Linked DNA regions of Homo sapiens: all the other regions are linked to region 1. Evidence: fine-mapped expression QTL. A gene starts in region 1. Each other region holds a variant in brackets. All regions are shown on one strand. Distances are from middle to middle. Region 1 holds the start of TARS3 (threonyl-tRNA synthetase 3). Region 2 has its middle 11 kb from the start of OR4F15. Region 3 has its middle 27 kb from the start of OR4F6. Region 4 holds the start of OR4F15 (olfactory receptor family 4 subfamily F member 15). Region 5 overlaps TARS3 (threonyl-tRNA synthetase 3).

Evidence for each region. PIP is the estimated chance that this variant, and not a neighbour inherited with it, causes the effect.
Region 2: its variant is the best candidate, but not a certain one, in a credible set for the expression of TARS3 in whole blood (INTERVAL, PIP 0.52).
Region 3: its variant is the best candidate, but not a certain one, in a credible set for the expression of TARS3 in whole blood (INTERVAL, PIP 0.63).
Region 4: its variant is the best candidate, but not a certain one, in a credible set for the expression of TARS3 in whole blood (INTERVAL, PIP 0.79).
Region 5: its variant is the best candidate, but not a certain one, in a credible set for the expression of TARS3 in anterior cingulate cortex (GTEx, PIP 0.56).

Annotation. Positions count from the first base shown.
Region 1 is chr15:101,721,539-101,726,139 of GRCh38, forward strand. It overlaps TARS3 (threonyl-tRNA synthetase 3), which reads right to left and starts at 2,935. Exons shown (of 19, transcript NM_152334.3): 1 at 2,553-2,935; 2 at 1,555-1,626. The coding sequence starts at 2,849. RefSeq lists a silencer at 2,331-3,220.
Region 2 is chr15:101,820,754-101,825,354 of GRCh38, forward strand. No RefSeq gene overlaps it. Among named protein-coding and RNA genes, the nearest start is that of OR4F15, 11 kb to the left of the region's middle. The variant C/T (reference allele first, on the strand shown) is at 2,171.
Region 3 is chr15:101,774,218-101,778,818 of GRCh38, forward strand. It overlaps the pseudogene GOLGA8VP. Among named protein-coding and RNA genes, the nearest start is that of OR4F6, 27 kb to the right of the region's middle. The variant A/G (reference allele first, on the strand shown) is at 2,551.
Region 4 is chr15:101,810,256-101,814,856 of GRCh38, forward strand. It overlaps OR4F15 (olfactory receptor family 4 subfamily F member 15), which reads left to right and starts at 1,947. Exons shown (of 2, transcript NM_001001674.2): 1 at 1,947-2,017. The variant T/C (reference allele first, on the strand shown) is at 1,971.
Region 5 is chr15:101,683,746-101,688,346 of GRCh38, forward strand. It overlaps TARS3 (threonyl-tRNA synthetase 3), which reads right to left. Exons shown (of 19, transcript NM_152334.3): 11 at 2,151-2,317; 12 at 330-492. Among named protein-coding and RNA genes, the nearest start is that of TM2D3, 34 kb to the left of the region's middle. The variant T/C (reference allele first, on the strand shown) is at 2,385.

The DNA.
Region 1 (4,601 bases):
GGCTGGAGTGCAGGGGCACGAAATCAGCTCACTGCAGCCTCTGTCTCCTAGGTTCAAGCGATTTTCCTGCCTCGGCCACCCGAGTAGCTGGGATTACAGGCACGCACCACCCTGCCAGACTAATTTTTGTATTTGTAGTAGAGATGGGGTTTCGCCATGTTGGCCAGGCTGGTCTCGAACTCCTGACCTCAAATGATTTACCTGCCTTGGCCTCCCAAAATGCTGGGATTACAGGCGTGAGTCACCGTATCCAGCCGCAATTTTTCAACTTTAGTGATGTGAAAGTCATATGCATTCAGTAGAAACTGTACTTTGAGTATCCATACAACCATTGTGTTTTTCACTCAGTACAGTATTCAATAAATTACATGAGATATTCAACACTTCATAATAAAATAGGCTTTATGTTAGAGGATTTTGCCCAACTGTAAGCTAATCTAAGTGTTCTGAGCACTTTTAATGTAGGCTAGGCTAAACTACGATGATCACTAGCTTACGTGTATTAAATACATTTTTAACTCACATTGGTTTTATTGGGACATAACCCAACTGTAAGACTAAGAGCATGTGTACTTCCCACCTCCAAAAGGCTCCTCTCTGCCTATCTAACTTCTCCTTAGCTCTAAAGGTCCACCTCAAAGCCTGCCTCCTCTACCTATTTTACCCGCTGGCATCTCCCTTTTTTTTTTTTTTTTCCTTTGAGACAGCCCCACGCCCAGCCCCCATGACACCTCCCTTTTCTACTGTTTACAGAACGTGTACAGAGTCACACATTACAGCACTTACTTGTATACCATCGTACTCTGTTCTCTAGTTGTTTGTCCTGAGTCTGCCTGAATTCCTCAACCAGACTAACTTCTTTGGGCCTAGGTATTCCTTCTTCACTCCTACCAAATGTTGATGCTAGATAAATACTTACTGATTGTTTTAATGCTTTATATACAAAAGCAAAGTAGCTAGTTTCTCGAATACAAAAAAAAAAAAAAGACCGGGGGCGGTGGCTCACGCCTGTAATCCCAGCACTTTGGGAAGCCAAGGTGGGCGGATCATGAGGTCAGGAGATCGAGATCCTCCTGGCTAACACGGTGAAACCCCATCTCTACTAAAAAAAAAAAAAAAAAAAAAAAAAAATTAGCCGGGCTTGGTGGCATGCACCTGTAGTCCCAGCTACTCAGGAGGCTGAGGCAGGAGAATCGCTTGAACCTGGGAGGTGGAGGCTGCAGTAACCGAGATCATGCCATTGCACTCTAGCCTGGGCAACAAGAGCAAACCTCCGCCTTCAAAAAACAAAAAAAAACCAACCAAACAAAAAAAACCAACTCTAGTACTCTAGTAGCACAACTTAAATAGATTAAATACACGTGTTTATTAAACATGGGCAGCTCATTTCTCAAGACATCTCATATTTAAGGCTTGAAAAGTTTTAAATACACTAATGTGACCCAAATAATAATTTAATCAGTAATTTTTATTGGAAATCCTAGGTAATTAACTATATACACATATTTAAAATTACAGGTAGTATTTTATATTGTTTCCACAGCAACAACTTACCTCGCTGTCAGCCTCGCTTTCCTTCATTTTCTTCTTTTTCATGTCCTTGTCTTGGCTTTGACTAGGAGGAGGCTGAAAGATAAATTATAAATGACTCACATCAATGGCAAGAAAAAGCAACACATTTTAAGAAGAGAGTCATGCCAGCAGGCTGCAAGTGCCCCGTGTTTAGAGGCTCATAGCTGGGCTCTCCTGACCACCAGCTACAGCTCTCAGTGGGCAAGTCATTCTCCAGGGTTCAGTCCTTCCTGTCACACTGTTGCTAAGCACATTTAATATATTGTGCTCTTGAAAACCTTTTGTCCTGAACTTTAAACAAATAATGTGGCTGGAAAATGTGTGGTTGCTGCCCGCCACATCAAATGCACTATTTCCTGAAGATGTTGCTAGTTCACCGCAGCTGTCCTTCCTAAAGGACTGCAGAACATCTCAGCCTGAGAAGCTTCAGGACTCAGAAAGTATGATGTTAAAAGAAGATAATTTATCCTTTCTACAAATCATAAAATACTGTATTAAATAAAAATGTTAAATATACAGCTATCCTCTCAAGATGAACCACCAAAACAAGAGCACAAAAAGCGAAAACTTCTCGTCCAAAAAAAACCCAACAACAAAAAAGAACCAGAGGGAATGAGAGTTTACATACGCAGCTGTTAGTCTTTCTGACCAAGGAAAGAATGAGTTTTAAACACTCCAGCATTTTTTCAAACAAATGAAAACACTATTTCTGCTACTGAAAAAGATGCGTGGCAGGCTCTTTAATGGACGAATTGAGAAATCAACAGCATTTGGTTAAGTCTGGCGACTGCTGGAAATCCGGCGGCTCCCCAGGCCACACGGGACCACCGAGCAGGGCAGGGCGGGCCAGCCGCAGGGCACTGGGAGGGCACTCCCCCGGGGCGCCCCCGCACCTGCCCCCGCAGTTGAAAACCTTTCGGTGCGCACCGTCTCGGCCCGCCCCGCCCGCGTCCTCTCCAGTGTCCCCACCGCCCGGTTACCTGTGCGCCGGCCTCCTGCGCCGCCTCTAGCTCCGCGCTCTCCAGCGTGGCCTGGCGGCTCCGCTCCTCGGCGAGGCACAGCCGCAGGCTGCACAGGCGGTGGCGCAGGTCGCAGTTCTCGGCCCGGAGCTGCGCCACCTCCCGCGTGAGGCACGGCCCCTCCGCCTGGCAGCTGTAGGGCGCGTTCAGCTGCTCGTCCCTCAGGCGCTCGACCTCCGACCACAGCCAGCGGATGTCCTCCTCCTGCCGCTCCAGGCGCGACGCCACGGCCTCCGCCGCCAGGGCCTCGGCCGCCATCGCGGCCTCCCTCAGGCACCGACGCCGAGCGGGGTGCCCGCGACTGCGGCGAGGGCGACGCGGACACTCAGCGCACGGCAGAAGACAGGGCTCCCGGGAGGGGCGGGGCGATGGGGCGGGGACGGAGCCATGGGGCCTCGTTGGAGCCGAGGCCTACACGTTGCAGGGGCGGGGCGCTGGGCGGGGAGGGGCGGGGCCTAGGCCAGATACCCTGCAGGGGCGGGGCGGGGCGGGGCGGGGCCTGAGGCCAGATACCCTGCAGGGGCGGGGCGGGGCGGGGCCTGAGGCCAGGCCCACCTTAGGGTCACGGGCAGTGGGGAAATGGGGTCTGAAGGGCCTCCCCTGCCTTTCGAGGCCTGTCTAGAGGCTATTGGCAGTAGTTTTTAGTCCGTTGAAACGAAAATCTTCCAAAACCTTGCAAAAAGGCCATCGTCTGCGTTCTCCAAAAAGGCTTCACCCTTTCTTCCTCTTGAATTCTGGCAGTCACCATTCTTTTGCCTTGCAAACAGGTTCTAAAAAGTGGCCATTCATTATAAATGGACTTTCTGGCCTTTCGTGCCAAACTTGCCCAAGTACTGAGGCCTCTGGGCCAGGGCATATAGAAAATCGCTGTGAAATCTAAATCCGACCAGCACGAAATTACTGGCTCCTTGAGTCTAGGGCAAATGCCACATATATCTTTGTATCCCTCTTAACCATGAGCGTGAAACTTCCTGGAGCAGGAACAGAAATTGATTTTTATCACTATTCTTAGGGCTTAGGATGTGACAAACACTGTTCTAAACTCTGTAACAGTAGTAACTCCTTTAATCTTCATAACAGGAGATACTGTTATATCCGCTTATAGCTGGAGAAATTGAAGCACAGTGAGACTGTGTTACTTGACTAAGGTCACACAGCCACTACATGACAAAGGGGGAATCAAACTCAGATAGTCTGATGCCAGTTTCTACACACTTAACACTAGTACTTTTCAACTTTGGCAGAATTTAATTGAGCATGTCATATAATGTGATACAGGTAATAATGCCCTTATAAGAGTCCTGAAGTGGAAGAGCTTAGCTTGGACTGGTGTGGTTTGAGAAAGGGAGAAAATTTTGAGAAAGGGGAAAAGGTTTATTTTGCTCTGGAAAATAAAGGTTGGGAGATGTTAGCAAGGAGGAAAAGCAGGTAAATTCCACTCCAGGAGCAGAATCAGTGCAGGAGAAGGAGCGGAGGGGGACAAGCTCATTGGATTAAGCTAAGTGGAATCCCAAACAGCACCCAGGAGGAGATTCCATGAAGTATGTTGCTAACCAATATCACTGTATCTTTTTTAGTCCTTCCTCAGGAAGCCTCTGGATACAGTTACATAGGACCCACTGACTCCTCATTATTCATCATTTCTCAATCCACTGCCATGGAGTTTCTGCTTCTGCCATTCTGTCATGACCAACACATCACTGAATGTCATGGACCCACTTAAGCCACCCCAGAATTTCCTCGGGACCCTCTGGAATTTGTCTCTCTTGGGTCTCCATTCCCAATACCTAGGCAACCACCAGTCTGCTTCCTGTCACTATAGGTTAGTTTGCATTTTCTTGATTTTTCTACACATGGAACCACACCGTATGTCCTCCTTTTGTTTAGCTACTTTCAGTCGGCACAATAATTTTGATATTTACCTATGTTTGTGTGTATCTATTGTTCTTTTTTTCTGAGTAGTATTCCATTGTATGGATATACCATAATTTGTTTATTCATTTGTTGATG
Region 2 (4,601 bases), 99 kb after region 1:
TGCAGATTCATTATCTCACTATCCCCATTTTAGAGAGGAGGTGTCTGGGGCACAGAGTTGCTAAATATCATCAAGGTTATGAAGTAGTAAGTGTGGACGCAAAGTCTGCTAGTTTGAATTCAGAGTTGGTTCTCAAAACCCGTGCACTACAGTGCATCTCTGGCAATAAAACGTATCAGGATAGCTCCTTTACTTAAAAGCAGTCCCTATTTGTGGGCCCTCTACTGGGTGACGTCATTACCACCAAACCCAGCATTTATGGGGTCAATTAATTTACAAAAATTTTTTGTATATGTATACCCATTCAGCCGTTTTGTTGTAGGCTGTCACTACAATCAGGGAAGTTGAAATGCCAGAATTTCTCCGATATAGAGGAAAATGTCTAAAGTCTCCAGAAGATATTAAATAATTCCTAACTCTACCTTTCTTGGAGGGGGTGGGAGGACATAGCATCACCATGGCTGATTTAATAAATGGTAGAAGGAAGGACTGTGCAACAACTCTAAGTACACATACACATAGTAATGATCTACCAGTACTTTGCTCAAACTTACCTATGACCATTTATTTGTAGAATTAAACACCAGGAAAAATAAGGAATATCACAATATTTAAAGGACTGTTGGACTCAGAGTTGACATTTACTCCCAGATTCCTGAAGGGTCATCACTGCTGTTTTGAGTGGACACATTTGGTAGTATGTAGAGTCCTAGTTCAGATCAGGTGCATGTTGGGTTCACCAAATGACAACCTCCCAGTGATCCTTACATCATTTCCTCAATGTATAATTGGAAAAGATATACTTGGTAGTTTGTACAACTCCACACTTCTTCCTTGTCCTGTGGGTTACAGTTATTATGGTAGGGAAGTCACCAAAACTGTCCTATCCCCCAGTATAAAATAGTATTTTTCTTTTTTTTCTTTTTTTGAGACAGGGTCTCGCTCTGTTGCCTAGGCTGGAGTGCAGGGGCACGACCTGCAGCCTCCACCTCCTGGGTTCAAGCGATTCTCCTGGCTCAGCCTCCCAAGTAGCTGGAATTACAGGCGCATGCCGCCACACCCAACTAATTTTTGTATTCTTATTAGAGACAGGTTTTCGCCATGCTGATGAGGCTGGTCTTGAACCCCTGACCTCAAGTCATCCACATGCCTTGGCCTCCCAACATGCTGGGATTACAGGTGTGAGCTGCCATGCCCAGCCTAAAATAGTATTTCAAAAATTATACTTCATTATGAAGGGGTAAAAATATCCCAGAGATACAGAAATAGTTCCCATTCTATCTCCATTTAATTCACCAGTGTGTCACCTATGAAAGCTAGTCACTTCCTGGAGAATGCCAATGGACTATTGTAAACTTATCCCAGTAGTAATCTAAATTGCAGCTACTGTGCCAAAGGTGGTACCTTTGCTAGAGCAGATTAACATAGACCTGGGTATATAATATGTGATCATTGATCTGGTAAATTTTCTCTTCCATCTCTTTCACAAAGTAGAATTAGAAACAGCATTCACTTGGAATGGACAACATATACGTTTGCTGTCTTACTGTACCATAAAATAGCCTGAAGAGACTTGAACCATTTGGATATTTTATAGATTGTCTTAATGGTCGATTATATTAATAACACTATGCTGTCAAACCAGATGAAGGAGTGGCAAGTATTAGATACTTTAGTAGTACACATATGCTCTCAAGAGAAGGAATAAACTCTATAGAGAACTGTGAAATTGTCACATCATTAAAATTTTGAGTTTGATGGCCCAGTCCATGCTAGGAGGTCCTTTTCAAAGCAAAGGAAAATGTTTTTTCCTTCTTTAAAATTTTTTTTATTTCAAGTAAGTTTTGGGGTACAAGGGGTTTTTTTTTGTTATATGGATGAATTATATAGTGGTGAATTCTGATATCTTTGTGCACCCATCACCTGAGTAGTGTGCATTGTACCTGACGTGTAGATTTTTACCCCTAGCCTCCCTCCCACACTCCCACTTCTGATTTTCTAAAGTCTATTATATCACCCTGTCTGACTTTGTTTACTCATAGCTTAGCTACAACTTATAAGTGAGAACATAAAGATTTGGTTTTCCACTCCTGTGTTACTTCACTTAGAATAATGGCCTCTAGCTTCATCCAAGTTGCCGCAAAAGACATTACTTCATTCCTTTTAATGG[C/T]GGAGTAGTATTCCGTGGTATATATATTTTTTATCCACTCATGAGTCGATGGGGGCTTAGGTTGGTTTTCCACATCTTTGCAATTACGAATTCTGCTGCTATCAATATACATGTGCAAGTATCTTTTTCATATAATGACTTATTTTCCTTTGGGTAGATACCCAGTAATGCGATTGCTGGATCAAATGTTAGATCTACTTTTAGCATTTTAAGGAATTTCCTTACTGTTTTCCATAGAGGTTGTACTGATTTACATTCTCACCAGCAGTGTATAAGTCTTCCCTTTCCCCCACAACCGTGCCAACATCTATTGTTTTTTGACTTTTTAATAATGGCCATTCTTGCAAGAGTAAGGTGGTGTCTCGTGGTTTTGATTTTCATTTCCCTGATGATTAGTAATGTTGAGCATTTTTCATGTATTTGTTGGCCATTTGTATATCTTTTTTTGAGAAATATCTATTCATGTGCTTTGCCCATTTTTTGATGGGATTATTTTAGTTTCTGCTGACTTGAGTTTCTTGTAGATTGTGGATACTAGTCCTTTGTCAGATGCATAGGTTGCAAATATTTTCTCCCATTCTGTAGGTTGTCTATTTACTCTGATTATTATTTCTTTTGCTGTGTAGAAGCTTTTTAGTTTAACTAGGTCCTATTTATTTTTGTTCTTGTCGCATTAGATTTTGAAGTCTGAGTCATGAATTCTTTGTCTAGGCTGATGTCTAGAAAAGTTTTTCTGATGTTGTCTTCTAGAATTTTTATAGTTTCAGGTCTTATATTTTAGTCTTTGATTTACCTTGAGTTGATTTTTTATAAGGTGAGAGACACAGATCCAGTTTCATTCATCTACACATGGCTTACCAGTTTTCTCAGAACCATTTATTGAATAGGTTGTCCATTCCCTAATTTATGTTTTTGTATGCTTTGTCAAAGATCAGTTGGCTGTACATATTTGACTTTATTTCTGGGTTCTTTATTCAGTTCCATTGGTCGACATGCCTACTTGTATATAAGCACCATACTGTTTTGGTAACTATCGCCTTGTAGTATAATTTGAAGTCTGGTAATGTGATGCCTCCAGGTTTGTTCTTTTAATCAAAGGAAAATTATTGCATCTTGCACCTTCTGTCACTAATAAGAAAGAACTATACCTGGTAGATTTCTTCCATTTCTGGAGGAAGCATAGGCTATAATCAGGAATACTACCACAACCCATATGCTGAAAGCCATGAAAGTCTGTCAGCTTTGAGCAGGGCGCAAATATGAAAAAGATTTTGCTGTAAAAGATCTAGACTTTGTGCAGATAGCCTTACTTCTTTGGCCATACTACCTGGCATACCCAGGTATTAGAAAAATTGGTGGTGAAAAGAGAAAAAATGAGTTTCATAGCAAGCACCAGTTGGATAATTACAACACAAAGCTTCAGGGGCTTAAGCAATCATTTTTCTAAAGATTACAGAGTAATTAACACATGACATGTAGTTCCACAAGATGTCATATTATACCACATTAAAGATATGGAGGTATGAGAGTTAGGACATGACCATTAGATCTACTGGCCTCTTCACATACTGCACCACCCAGAATCTGCTCATCTAATGAAGCAATGAAATGGCTGTTATCAAAATAGTCCTCATGGTGAGCTACAGGAAAGAGGATTTCAACAGCCATGTTTCATGTTAATCACCTTTTTCTTCCCCTCCATTCCCGCTAAGTGATTCATGTGAAATACACTGGCGGAGGCTGCCATTTTGGGTTTAGATTACTCTGCAAAGATATAACAGCTTATTTCTTCTATGTTGCCAACTTTCTTCTGCCCTGATGTTATTTGTCCTGCCCTGTTTGTCCCCCGGATAAAAAATGAGTGGGTTCAGACAACAATAGCCCAGTTTCCATTTGTCTCTCCAGTGTCACTCTTGACCCTTCTCCACCCAGTTTTGTGCCTTTATTAAGCTCTTCTTCAGTTACCTAACTTGAGTGTCGCGTCTCTTGTCCTGGCAGGATCCTGACTGACACAAGTGTACAAAATTGAAAGTAAAAATACCTTGTTTTCTTGCACAACAATCTCACTGTCAAAAGTGCTTATTGCAAAAAGTTTATTGTCTACTTGTTCCGATTTGTATGCACAGCGGCATAGTGTGTGCTGCATTGGTATCCACTGTTTCACTCAATGGTGTGTCGTGGTTGTCTTTAACTGTATAGATATCAAACTTGCTTTACAGTGGCTTTAGAGAATTCGATTGTATGGATGTAGAATACTCTTTTAAATTTATCATCAACTGCTGGATGTTTTAGTTGTTTCATTTTCTATTAAGCTCTAAACACCGGAATGAATTTCTGTACAGCTAAATCTTGGTACATATCCATAACTACACAGCATATGACTATGTAAAAATGAAGTGTTGTATACATTCTTCTACCATTTAAACTGTAA
Region 3 (4,601 bases), 53 kb after region 1:
AAGTATTATCTCAGTTAATCCTCAGCACGTCTGTAAGGAAAATGTTAACTTCCTTCTGAAGTTAAGTGAACAGAGACTTAGAGATGCAAAGTACTTGAATGGTGACCAGTGGAACCGAGGCTGGAATCCAGTTTTAACCTAAGAAGCCTTTTTGTTTTGTTTGGAGACAGAATGTCACTCTGTGGCCCAGGCTGGAGTGCAGTGGTGCAATCTCAGCTCACTGCAATCTCCACCTCCTGGCCTCAAGTGATTCTCATGCCTCAGCCTCCTGAGTAGGTGGGATTACAGGTATGTGCCATCATGCCCGGCTAATTTTTTTTTTTTTGGTAATTTTAGTAAAGATGAGGTTTTACCATGTTGGTCAGGCTGATCTCAAACTCCCGACCTCAAGTAATTCTCCTGCCTTAGCCTCCCAAAGTGCTGGGATTATAGGCGTGAGCCACTGCACCTGGCATAAGGAGCCTCTTATACCACTGTCTCTTCCCCTGTGACTGGGGCCTCCATGCCGCTAGCTGAGATGATGATGTCTAGACCTGGGAGGAGCCCAGGGCTACCCACCTCTAAAAGTCAGAAGGCAGGAAGCAAGAAATAGTCACAGGACTGCCCTGGAGGGTGCTGAGGTCACCTGCCCACAGGCTAGTGCTGCCTCTGGCCTGGCACCTCCCCTCCCAACAGGCTGGTGCCCGCCTCCCAGCCCTTCTTGGATGGGGCAGAGGTTACTGTCTCCTTCACCTCGCCAAGCTTCTCCTGCAGCTCCTCTACTTGCTGCTCCAACTGCAGTGCACTTTTGTTCTTGTTCTGGACAGAGAGAAGCAATCAGCAGCCACCCATTGCAGCTGGAGACCCCAGAACTTGGTGTCTGCCTCCCATGGCACCGGGAAGGGTGGAGGCAGGTTAGAAAAATCATCCCGTCTCCCACAGCCACCAGAGCACGGCTCTGGCTCACAGGTGCCTTTAGAAGTAACGTTTCACTTGAGGGCTACACTGCCCCATTTTACAGGTGGGGAAACAAAGGCCTGGAGGGCTAGGGAGGAGGGCAGGCTCCCTAGGTGGGGCAACGCACCAGCTCCTCGAAGCTACTCTGTGGCTCGGCCAGCTGCTGAGGCCTCGCGTCCTGCTCCCGAAGCCTCTCATCCTGCTCCTGAAGCCTCTCCTTTTGCCCCAATATCAGGACACTCATGCGCTTATTGTTGTCCACCTGGGCTTGGAGTTCTGCTGCCACTCTCTCAACCTCCTTCCTCAGGTGCTGCAGCTCCACCTCAGAGGGCACTCCTGGAGGCTCCGGGAGCAGGGGTTCAGCTGAGAAAGGAAGCAGACAATAAAGGCCTCTGGATTCTCAAAAAAACAAACAAAAGAAAAACCCTCCTCTTGGTGCACAGCTCCTCTCAGGCTCCCCGAACTTGGCCTCACTGCTACTGATTCCTCACACCCAGATGGTAGCCAATCTTCCAAGCCACTTTCAGATAGAGAGCACTGTGGGTGGCTGACAACGGGCCCTCTTTGCTGATGGGGACACTGAGGATCATGGAGATGACAAGACTTGCTGTCTCTGGCACAGACCTCTTTCCTTCTGCCTCAAAGCCCTTCCATTGACCCACCTCTCTGGGGCATTCTAAGCCACTCCCACAGCCCTCTGATGCCAGTCCTGCTCCCAGGTCATGCCAGCCCCATCTTACCCATCTGGTTTTTGAGTTTGGACAAGCTCCTCTCCAGCTTCTCTCCCCGATGTGTTTCATACTTCTCCTTCTTCAATGTGTGAACCTGCCCAAACCACAGGGGTAAAGAGCCCTGGAGAGAGGGGCTGGTGGCTGGACAGGCTGCCATCTCCCTCTCTGCCCCCACCTCCACAAAGCCCAGACCCAGGACCACCTCTGGCTGTACTATTCCCATTTTACAGATGCCCAGAAAGATCCAGTGACTTATCTAAGGTGGGGGGTTGAAGGGTCAGATCTCACCTCCTGCGACATTTTCCTCATCCTCTGCTGCTCTGCTGCCACTGGGCCCTCTCTTCTTTTATATGTTGAGCATATTCATCTCTCTCTAGCCGGATTTGTTTAAGCAACTCCTTCAACTGCAAGAATGGGCACAGAAGTTAGGAAGGGCTGTCACTGGTCCTCAGCTGCTCCTGGCCACCTGGCTCATCTTCCTTCCACATCCCTCCCACTGCAAAACCTCACCCATGTAGTGTGTGCATTCAGCAGTGCCTGCTCCTGTATGGACCACTCTAACTACCACTCGATAACTGCTTTACTGCGGCTCAAGGTCTGAAGGTGAAGAGTGAGAAGTTTCGATCTGGAGAGCCCAGGCCATTCCACACAGTGCCCCTTAAAAGGCCTGGGCTAGGCTCAGTATACAACTTTGTCAGTAAAGATCAAGGCCTTTCCAAGCTCGTGGTATGGTTTTTTAAAAGAACTCAGTCAAGTTGGAAGGGACAGGGAAAGAGATTGAATTTACAGCTGGCTAACAGAGGCCCAGAGAGATCAGATAATATTGCTTTGTAATTACTGTTATTGCTACCACTGTTTGAACATTTATGGAGTGCTTCACCAG[A/G]TACCATGCTGGCAATCCCATTTAATCCTTGCAACCACCATAGGAGACAGTTACTATGATTACCTCTATTGTGTAGATGAAAACACATGGAGTATTCGAGGTTAAGTGCTTGCCTAAGATCACTTAGGCAGAGCTGGGATTTGAACACCCAGGTCTATGCAATTCTCTAAGCCCATTTTTCTTGCTGGGGGTAGGGGCATAGATTGGAAGGGGAAAATTAATCTTTTGTTCACTTTTTGAATGGATGATACATTCGCATAGTCCAAAACTCAGAAGGTACAGAAGGGAAGTATCTCCCAGCCACCCTGTTGCTCTCTCCTGAGTTTTTTATGAACCCTTGCACACATGTTTTATGTATATTATCATAGTACGTGCACACACACACACTCATGTTTCCTCTCTCTACAGAAATGGTAACATATTAAAGGTACTCTTCTGTACCTTCACAGTAGAAGTACCTAATACCCTATGTAGGACTTGGCCAACACCACAGCCAGGTAAGGGCAGGGCAGGCACTTGGCCTCCAAGCTCTGCGTCCAGTGCTTGCTCCCCACAGTGGCCCCCAACTCACCCACAGCAGCTGACTCAGCCCCAGGCTGCTCTAACAACCATACACAAAAGCAGCGGGAAATGGCCATGCTGCATTCTGGGCAGGACAGTCCATCCTGCAGAAGGGAACTTTAGGCTCACTCCTCCATCTAGGAAGCCAAGCTGCCAGGGGATGGGGCAAGTGGCTGAACTCACACTGTCCTCCTTCTTCTCCTGTGTGGTGGTGACAGCAAAGAGAGCCCGCTCTAACTCTGCTATACGCTGCAATGAATGTTGCAGGCGAATGGCCAGACCCTTGGACTCATCTGTAATGAGAGATTTGAGATGGGACCCAAAGGACTCTCCCTAAAGACATGTCAAAGTGCCAGGCGGAAAGGTGACAGGGTGCCCAGATTCCTACCTTCAAAATACTTGAGAGAACGTTTCGTATGATATAGGTCCATATTTAGTTTCCCTTTCTGTGTGTTCAATCTCTGGATTTGAACCTTTGGGAGAAAAGCCAAGCAAGTGCTGAAAGAGAAGGAAAGAAACATTCTCTGGAGGACAGGAGGGAACTGCACACCCTCCACTCACCTCTAGCTCCCTTTCGGCTTTCTGTTTCTCATTGTTTGCTTTCTTTTCCTATAGAAAGAGGAAGACAGAGCTCTTACCAGGGGGAGGCAGAGATGGCACAGCAAGAGACATGCCCCCAGAATGCCACCAATGCCCCAGGACAGGCCCATCTGTGGGACCAGGTTATCAGGGACCCTGTAGAGATGGGGTGGAATCTGAGGGGTGAGCCTTCTTTCCCAGGCTGGGAGTGGACAAGATGAGACTGGGGCCTCTACATCTGAGTGCCCCCCAAACCCAGCAGTCATGTCATGAGCAAACACAGAAATCACGTTACTTCTTCCAGCTGATGTTCCACTTGTTTCTTCTGTTGCTCCTGTGGGGAGAGTCAAATTAAGGTGATGGAGGGTGGCCCCCTCAGCTCTATTCCCCAGACCAGGAAGTGGTAGGCAGGGACCAGGAATGGATTTTAAAGGCAAAGTTCTCAGACCCAATGGGAACATGAACTGGTAAACTCTCTTCAAGCTCCCAAGGACAGAGGATTTGGGTCTTTGTTGGCTTTCACCTACAGCCACAAAACTCAAAGTCGGAATCTGGAATCTCTTGAGAGGAGAGTAACATAAACCTCTAGAGATGGAGTTTGAGAAAGGCCCCTCCTTCTGCCAGCTTGTGATTTAGAAAAGTGCGTTCATTCAATAAATATTTACTGAGCCCGTACGGGCCAGGTACGGTTCTTCACAGCAGATATAGGGTGGAAAAGGACTGACAGGAGCCCTTGGCCCTGAGGTTTCCATTCTAGGGGGCCTTTAAATCTCGGACTTTCAGAGCTGACAGAGACCTTTGATACTCACTACCTCCTCTCAAAACACAAGCCCAAAAAGGAAAGGTGGCTTGTCCAGAATCAAAGAGCAAATTAGGGACTGAGTCATGGCAGAAATACGGGGCCGCTGAAA
Region 4 (4,601 bases), 89 kb after region 1:
TTTTTCCCATACCACAAAACAGTGGTTAATAAAATAATTCTCACTACTTCAAAAGATCAATGCCTCATAATGCTTTAAAAGACATGATCCTTGTCATTGCTGATCTCTAGGGAGACAATGTCGAAGGTGTCCACGGCAGTGTTGGTTTTGGTATAGGGAAGATATGATCTTCAAAATATTAAACAACTGCATTGATCAGAACAGATGCTGGTCCCAGAGTTGGAGCAAGATCCTGGAGACTCCTGCTGTTCCAGGCATTAACTTTTAGTAGCTGATTCATAAGGAGTTCTGAGGAAGCAACTTGGAAGCGGTTGGAACCTTAAGAGGCTTGTGACAGTGGCTATATTCTAACCAGTGTGCAAGTATTTTAATTTTTTACAACTGGTATTATTACATTGGTGTCTTCTAGCTAAATATTAACATTGTTGGTATGTGAGGGTTGAAGTTAGAAGCAAGGTCCAATACTTGCTTAATCCAATCAGTGACCCTGAAAAACTTGGGGGTGATCTGAGTACTCAGAAAGGCAGAATGTGGTGCATACCCACCATGGAGTGCTCTGCAGTATTTAGAAGTGATATACTAGATGTACATATAGCAACATGAGACAAGTGGAAAAAAAGAATCAGAATGAGATATAGAATACCATTTTCTATGTATATGCATACAAACAATACTACATGTTTCACGATAACACAAAAGCAAGACACACTTAAAAACACCAGAATGACTGTCTTTGAGAGAAAGGGATTGAGAACGGAAATTAAAGGGGATAAACAAGAAAAACAAGAGTGCTTGTTGTAACCCAGTGATCATTGCTTGTTGATCAATTGATCAATGCTTGTTGTAAACCAATGATCATTAAGCACCATGGACAGAGACACATGATTACACCTAAGGTTAGAAAACCACACAAGTCCCGTTGCTTCCTCTTAATATTTTGAAATCAATCCTTATTCATATTATTCCTGCTTCCTGATGACAGACACAGTAAAAGATAATGGAATTACTTCAACAGCTGGATTCTTTTATTAAATTCAATGAATATAGTCTTCTTTGATTACAGGAAACTGCAAGTTGCTTTGGAAAAAATGAATGTGAATTAGATAAAGCCTATATCTTCAAAGTGCTTGGTACAATATGCTACATTTATAACTTATAAAAGTCACATTATAAGATACTAAAATTTTTTATAGCTTACTCTTTTACTTGCCTACTTTATTCATTATAGATAAAATTTAAAAGGATTCCATATGATTTTTATGAATATCTTGGGAAGTGGATATTATTAGATTATCTAGAGACACTTTCATTTATCATGATAGGATTTAAATTGTTAAAGATTGTGTCCTTTGCAGGGACATGGATGGCGCTGGAGGCCATTATCTTTAGCATACTAACTCAGGAATAGAAAACCAAAAACCACATGTTCTCACTTATAAGTGGGAGCTAAATGATGAGAACACATGGACACATAGAGGGAAGCAACACAAACTAGGGCCTATTGGAGGTTGGGAGGAGGGAGAGGATCAGGAAAAATAACTAATGGGTACTAAGCCTAATACCTGAGTGATTAATCTGCACAATAAACCCACATGACACACCTTTACCTATGTAACAAACCTGCACATGTACCCCTGACCTTAAAATAAAAGTGAAAAAGAAAAATAATCCAGAAAAATATAAAGTGGTGGAGATTGATTTTTCTTAGAGATTCTAGAGTCATTCCTTTCTCCTGTGACTCATTATCAACATTTCTTCTTTGTTGCTTTGCATGTATTTCTAGGAGACAATTTCTTGGCTCATTGACTTTAGAGTTGCAGTCCCAGGTCATTATAGCTTTATTAGGTCACTATCCTCCAGTGCAGTTAATTAGCTATTTTTCCATTTATATAAAGATTTTAAATACCTCTGTGTGCTTGAGATGATAGTCTGTAAATAGCTACAAGGTAAGGATGGCATGAAGTTCACAA[T/C]GGGAGCATGATAAACTAGATAAACTTCAGCTGCAAGAAAGACTCAGGTAACAGTTTGTTAGCCTGGGGCAGAAAGAAACAGGTGGTTGTGGTGGGGAAATGGTGATCACAGGAAAGGCATAAATATGAATTACCTGGAAAGGGAGAACAAGAATTAACCTTAGTTTTTAACTAAAACTTAGAAATGACTTGGAGATCCAAAGGTGCAAAGGAGTACACTACAGAGTCTGGAGTCTGCACTGTGGCTTGGTTCAGGGCAGGACTAGGATGCATGTAAAGTTGTTTGTGGTATCCAGAGACTTTTGGGGAAATCTATTAGCCCTGAAAATGAAGACAAACATGCTTGTTGTCTTCCTAACAAGCTTGTTGTTTACTTCTATTTCTAGAGAAGACCCAAGATATAAAAAGGAGAAAGTTCATCAGATACTAGTCATAAGTGAAGCTTTAAAAGATGAAATTCCAGTTTCATGGACTCAAGATGGAGAAGGAATAATTGAAAACATTTGGAAGAAAAACATCTGGGTTTTTAACTCACCCTGAACTAAAAAAATGTAGTGTCTGTTAAAATTAGTTGATTGAAGAATGGAGGAAAAAAAAGTAGGAAACTAAATGTGTAATGTTTAACAACCTGCAATAAATCCTCCTATACTTGTTCATGTTTTCAAAACATTTATGATAAATTTTTAGGTCTATATAATGAGAAGTTTAGGTAGTGAAATGGAGTGATTAGACAAAAGTGACAAGATAAAGAGGTAGAAGATGGATCCTTTGAGGAAGGCTAAAGCAAATTGAGGTGAATAAAACTAGAGGGTACAGATGAGTGATCTTTATTTGCTTTTACCAACATCAAGGATATTAAGCACTTATCTGACAGAGTACCTGACAACTTCTTTATATCCACAGGGGATGAATTAAGTGGATATCAGCTTAGTTGAAAGGATGGAGATTTCCTTTTTGTAAGAGAACATTTGGACTTTTATGTTAATGAGAAGCAGGACACAGCCGGGCACGGTGGCTCATCACCTGTAATCCCAGCACTTTGGGAGGCCGAGGTGGACAGATCAGTTGAGTGCAGGAGTTCGAGACCAGCCTGGCCAACATGGTGAAACCTCATCTCTATTAAAAATACAAAAATTAGCCAGATGTGGTGGTGCATGAATGTAAATCCAGCTACTCGGGAGGCTGAGGCTACAGAATCGCTTAAACCTAGGAGGTGGAGGTTGCAGTGAACCGAGATTGTGCCATGGCAATCCAGCCTGGGTGACAGAGTGAGAATCTGTCTCAAAAAAAAAAAAAAAAAATGCATGATACCTGTTCATAATAGCTAAGAAATATATTTTTGAACCTTGAAAACTGAGGGAAAAACTGACATTTCCTGGATGGGTAAATAAAGGAACTGGTTCAGAACGTAGTCTCAGATCTTTTCCAGCTCATTGAGTTTATTGATTGAGAATAATGAACATCTTTTTAAGAAAATTTTAAAATGTAGTGATCATAAATCTATTCTAAGAAGTTGCCCAATTCCGATCCCATGCAATTCCAGTTAGGTGAATTTAAATTTAAATGATTCCATCAAATGCTAGACTATCTGTATTTGTCACACTATCACAATTGTTTAGTGTAAATAGATGATAACTATAATTCATGTCATTGTAATTATTGAGAGCAATAGCCAGGCCAGAACTAGGGAACTCAAAGCAGGATATCTCCTAATGGCAATGGCCTTAGGAGAGAACACATTCTTTCCATGGAGGGTTTGGGATGCATCAAAATAATCAAACACTTATAACCCAATGTGTCATCCTGGAAGCCATTCAGCGACCCAAAGATGAATACTTAATACTTAAGAAATGTGAAGACAAGAGGACAAAAGCTGAGTAAATTTTTAGATCTGCTGCCATTTGCTCTTTGTATTATTTTCTCATCTTTGCTTTATGAGGGATTGTGAAGTAGGTAAATTTTGTGTTTAGCTCAATTTATTCTTTTACTCAGTTCTGGCTTCATTCCTGCGACTCTTATTCTCCTACCCAGCCCTTCAGCTATTACTCTGTCTCCTGAAGCAACCAGCCCTTGATAATCCTTCTTGGGTAATGACTCAGCTTAAAAATGGATCACTTATTTCTTCATCATTAAGAGTCTCATGTCTTGCATGCATGCGATCTCCACTAAGGAAAGCCAGCTGTTATTTTTTTTGTCTGCAATGCTCAATGGAGTATCCTTCCTGTAGCAATGTAAGCAAAACAAGGGACTTTAGTATCTTAACCTAAAGGAAAACAACTCTAATGCTGCAGTTTTTTAACCTAAAAGAAAGCAGCTCTAATGTTAAAGGAAATATTTTGGGGCACTGGAGCTTTTAATATTGCACATCTACACAAACTCCTACTTTGCTATTTCTTCCCCTTTATCACAATTTTCCACTTAATGAACCATCTTAGTCTCCTGTTGAATTCAATAATTCAATTTCCCCTTTTCTTTTTTTCTCATCTCTTTCCTTTCTGATTTAAAAAATGTATTTAACTTAAAAAAATCCACCTTGCCCTCTGTGTAGGCTCTGTCTTTGAGTAAACTTTACACAGAATCTCATATTTTTTGAATGACCTAATAACCCTCTTTTAGTTTTGTCTTTTCCTT
Region 5 (4,601 bases), 38 kb before region 1:
TTAACTTGAATTAACACAAAAACTTGAAAAAGTAAATTTTAAGTTCTAGGCGATACTGAAAAACAAAACATCCAGAATTCCACCAAATCCCTTAAAATACTCCACTTAATGGAATTTAGGTTAATAAAATCACTGAAGGAATATATTTCATGTCAAGAGATGATTAATCTATTGACCTAATTTAGAGAATCACAGCAGGTTAGAGCTGAATGAATCTCAGAGACTAGACCAAACGTCTATGTTTCAGTAACTCTGAAAGAATACAAGATGTGTGCGGGGCATCACACTCAATTTGTGACCACACTGCTTCACTCTGTGTTATTGTTTACCTGCTCCACTGTGCAAAAAATGTGAGCATCGTCCTGCTGGAAGCGCCTCACTCTGGTCAAGCCGCTGAGAGTCCCCGACAGTTCATTTCTATGCAGAACTCCAAAATCAGCAAATCTAATAGGCATTTCCCTCCAAGATCGTGGACGATGGGCAAACATTAGACTAGAAAAGATGTGGTAACACACAGCTTTTACACAGCACAGAAATATTAAATAATTATCTAAATATAAAGAAATTACAATTAAGCCTCAAGATTCATAAACTCCTTATTCTAGTTCTTAGATCACCAGGTTAAAAAAAAAATTCTTCCACAAATTAGTGAACCTTGCATTTACATCACTGCAGCACTCTGAGAAAGATGCTTGTCTATTATCTCTTCCCAGAAATGCTGTTCCCTCCCCTTATCCACACAGTGAATCACCATTTACTGTTTATGATTCATTTCAAAGGCTACTTCTTAAATGAAGCCCTCCTAGACATTTCCCAGACAGGGCTAGGCAGTTTCTCCTCACGTTCCTGGAACACCTCAAACATGCCATCATTATGGCACTGGTCTTTTTATAACAGATTGTCTACATGCATGGCCCTGCCCACTCTGCTCATGAGTTCCATGAGGGAATGGTTTGTGTCTTAATCACCTCTGCACTTCTAGCTCCAAGCACAAAAAGCACTCAACTATGTTCTCTGTTGAATGAAAGACTTCTCTCCTGCAGAAAGCACTCCTAGCTTCCATATCCCATTGCCTCTAAGCCACCGTGGTCTTGCTTTCTTATTCTGAGGTGTAAAAAGACAAACTTAAATTCTCTACTTTCATTATAAAGTACGAGGCTATAATTTTAAAGGATGCCTTTGAGAAGATGAGTTAAGAAATTGTTAACACAAGTGTTTTACAATGCAAAACACTAGCATAGCTTCTACCTTCTGTTTAGAAAGAGAGGATACAGAATGTTTACATACCGGTGTTCCTAAAATTAAAGTTATATATATTTTTTACATGACATCATCATAAAGTTAAATTTCTTCTCATCTTCACTTAAAAGGGCAAAGAGCTTTCTTCAGTGTTCAGTTACCGGTTTTAATAATTATCTTCTAGGTAAATTTACTTGAAACTATGTATGTTGATAATACAAAAACTACAATTGTTGGGATTGTTTTTTGTGGACAATTATGCCTATTCAGTTTCAGTTGTACAATATGTTTGTCTTACAAGGTTGAATTTGCATACCAACTTTATGATAATTAGTCTTTCATAGAATCAAAGACAGCATTGATTGTAAAATGTATCTTCATTTTATGTGCTACAAAGAAAGAAAATAACCTATTAATTAAATTATGATATAATGCTAAGATGCCACCAACTATAAGATGCATTTCAACTTCAGAAATGTTGAAATGTGGAAGAAAAATGGTATCTTGGAATCAGTGAAATCCAGAAACCCATTGATTATGACCTCATTGATCTTGTTATAATCCACCCAAACAGTATGAAAGAACTAAATATTCTGCAAATATGAACATGTGAAGTGCATTACTATAAGAAAGACAAATATTATAAAACTTATAAAATTGACACATAACATTATCCTTTAATCAGCACAAAAAAATGCAATGGTTACCAGCTAACATCCCATACCTGCCAAAGATCAAATATATTTTCAAAAGTAAATCCATTCTCCGGAATGAAACAACTTAGTAAAAATTAGTAATCACCACTCTTCAGATTAAAGGGACTCTTTCATTCCACAAAGCATTAAAAGATAATTGTGACGAAGCGTGCTATGTGCTCTCATGAAAAGGTCTGCTTCGCTTTTAATACTCACCAGTGCCCTGGACAATTCATGGGTTTGAGGGCAAAAGTGTCCTTTTCAATCTCAAAGGTAAACATGTTCTCGCTGTAATGCTGCCAGTGGCCTGAGGCTTCCCAGAGTTTACTGTTGTACATATTGGGAGAGAGCACCTCCGTGAAGTCCCGTTTGTGATATTCCTCCTTCAAGATACATGCATTCAACATTAAAATCTGCTAGGGCAGATCACAATTCCATGCAAAGTAACAC[T/C]ATGAGCAAATATTTTCAAATTGGGCTCATGTCCTATATTAATTCATGATTAATGTACCCTCAGTTTTAGGTGTGGTGGTTTCTGGATCTTGGAAGAAAGATTTACATATGCTTAGTATAATTTCTATTGAGTATATTTATTTTATAGCATATAACAGTATATAGTATATAATGTTTTAGTTCTTTGAAAAGTAGTAATTGAAATACAATATATATAGAAACTCACTGTAACTACTCCAAAGTCCTTCTAAACAGGTTTTTTCCTATTAAGAGGCAGAAAAAATTTATAATTTAATAAGCCTGAATGCCATGTTGCATGTTATAATTTTGATTTATTTAGTTTTAAACAGAAATAAGAATTTTAGTGTATAACGATTTAAGTAGTTGAAATTATTAAGTCATGAGCTGGCCTCTCTCCCTCCCTACCTATTAACAGCTTCCCTAATTGAATTACTGGAGACAGGAGAAGAGAGTTTTTTTCCAAGCAAAGTTTTAACTTTATTTAAACTTTCTTTAAAAACAAAACAATTAGGTGATCTTTGTTGGGTAAATATTTTATGTGCACTTTCCAAAAATGCATATTCTGCTGTTGTTTTACAAATGTCAATTAGGTCAAATTGTTTTGACAGTAATTTGATAGGGACCCTTTGCATGACAGTTTTAATTTGGATGAACACAAAAAGCTGAATAAGTAAGAATTCTGAGAATCCTTAGATTCTCAACATTTGTAAACCACTTAATGGACATCTGGCCCAAATCTAGAATGCCATGTATACTTTGAGCACATTTGAAAAACTGTTTTCACAGCTAAAAAAACATAAAACATAACATTTTAAGATTACTAACAATGGTTTTATACAACTGAAAGGAATGTTGTCTGTTATTCTTCAGCAGGGCATCCTGGCAGTCCACGGTAGACAGCTTAGGTCTCGGCCATTCAGTGAGCTGCTTTACCTATCCTTTGTTTTTACTAAATTAGAAAACCTTAACAGGTAGGGTGTGGTGGCTCACGCCTGTAATCCCAGCACTTTGGGAGGCCAAGGTAAGTGCATCACCTGAGGTCAGGAGTTTGAGACCAGCCTGGCTAACATGATGAAACCCCATCTCCACTAAAAATACAAAAATTAGCCAGGCGTGGTGGCACACACCTGTAATCCCAGCTACTCAGGAGGCTGAAGCAGGAGAATCGCTTGAACCCAGGAGGCAGAGGTTGCAGTGAGCCAAGGTCACGCCATTGCACTCCAGCCTGGGCAACAAAGCTAGACTCCATCTCAAAAAAAGAAAGAAAATGTTTAACAAAATGATGTCATTAAGAATGGCAGTGATTATTGGCTATTTCAGATGGTTCCATATATTCAGATTAAACAAGGTCCCAGAAATTAAGGGTGAGTGTGTGGGTGTGTGTGTGGCAGGGTGTGCGTGTTCGCTTTTACTAAAAACTACTTTTAAAGTCTAGCTCAGGAGATACTGCTCAATGCATTTTTAATTCACTCTGAATGCAACCATGTTAGGAATGTATGTCTTCTTGAGATGTTTAGAAATGATTTTAAACTATCCCTGCAATGGACTGAATGTGTCTCCCCCAAAATTGTGATATTGATACCTTAACCCCAAGGTGATGGTATTAGGAAGTAGGGCCTCTGACAAGTGATTAGGTCATAAGGGTAGAGCCCTCATGAATGAGATTAGTGTCCTTATAAAAGGATTCGCAGAGAGCTCTCTGGTCCTCTTTCTGCCATCTGAGGTTACAAGAAGTCAGCAGTCTGCAACCTGGAAGAGGGCCCTCACCAGAACCCAACCATGCTGGGACCCTAATCTTAGACTTACTGCCTCTAGAACTGTGAGAAATACCCTTATGTTGTTTATAAGCTACCCAGTCTAGGGTACTTTGTTATAGCAGCACAAACTAATGAATATAATCCCTATGAGATGAAGTGTCAGCAACTATTATATTTTTACATAAATATATAGGAGATATCTATATATATTATGCTGCTGTATCTCTCCATATTGTAATATACATATTGTTTTGTCTCTCACACACACATATAAATAACAGAGAGATAAAGCAAACTGGCAAAATATTACCAACTAATGAATCCAAATGAAGGAAATATGGATGTTCATTGCATTGCATTTTAGTTTTTCTCTAGATTTGAACTTTTCAAGAGAAAAAGTTGGGGAGTAAAATATGTCTCATGCCATGCCATTAATTTC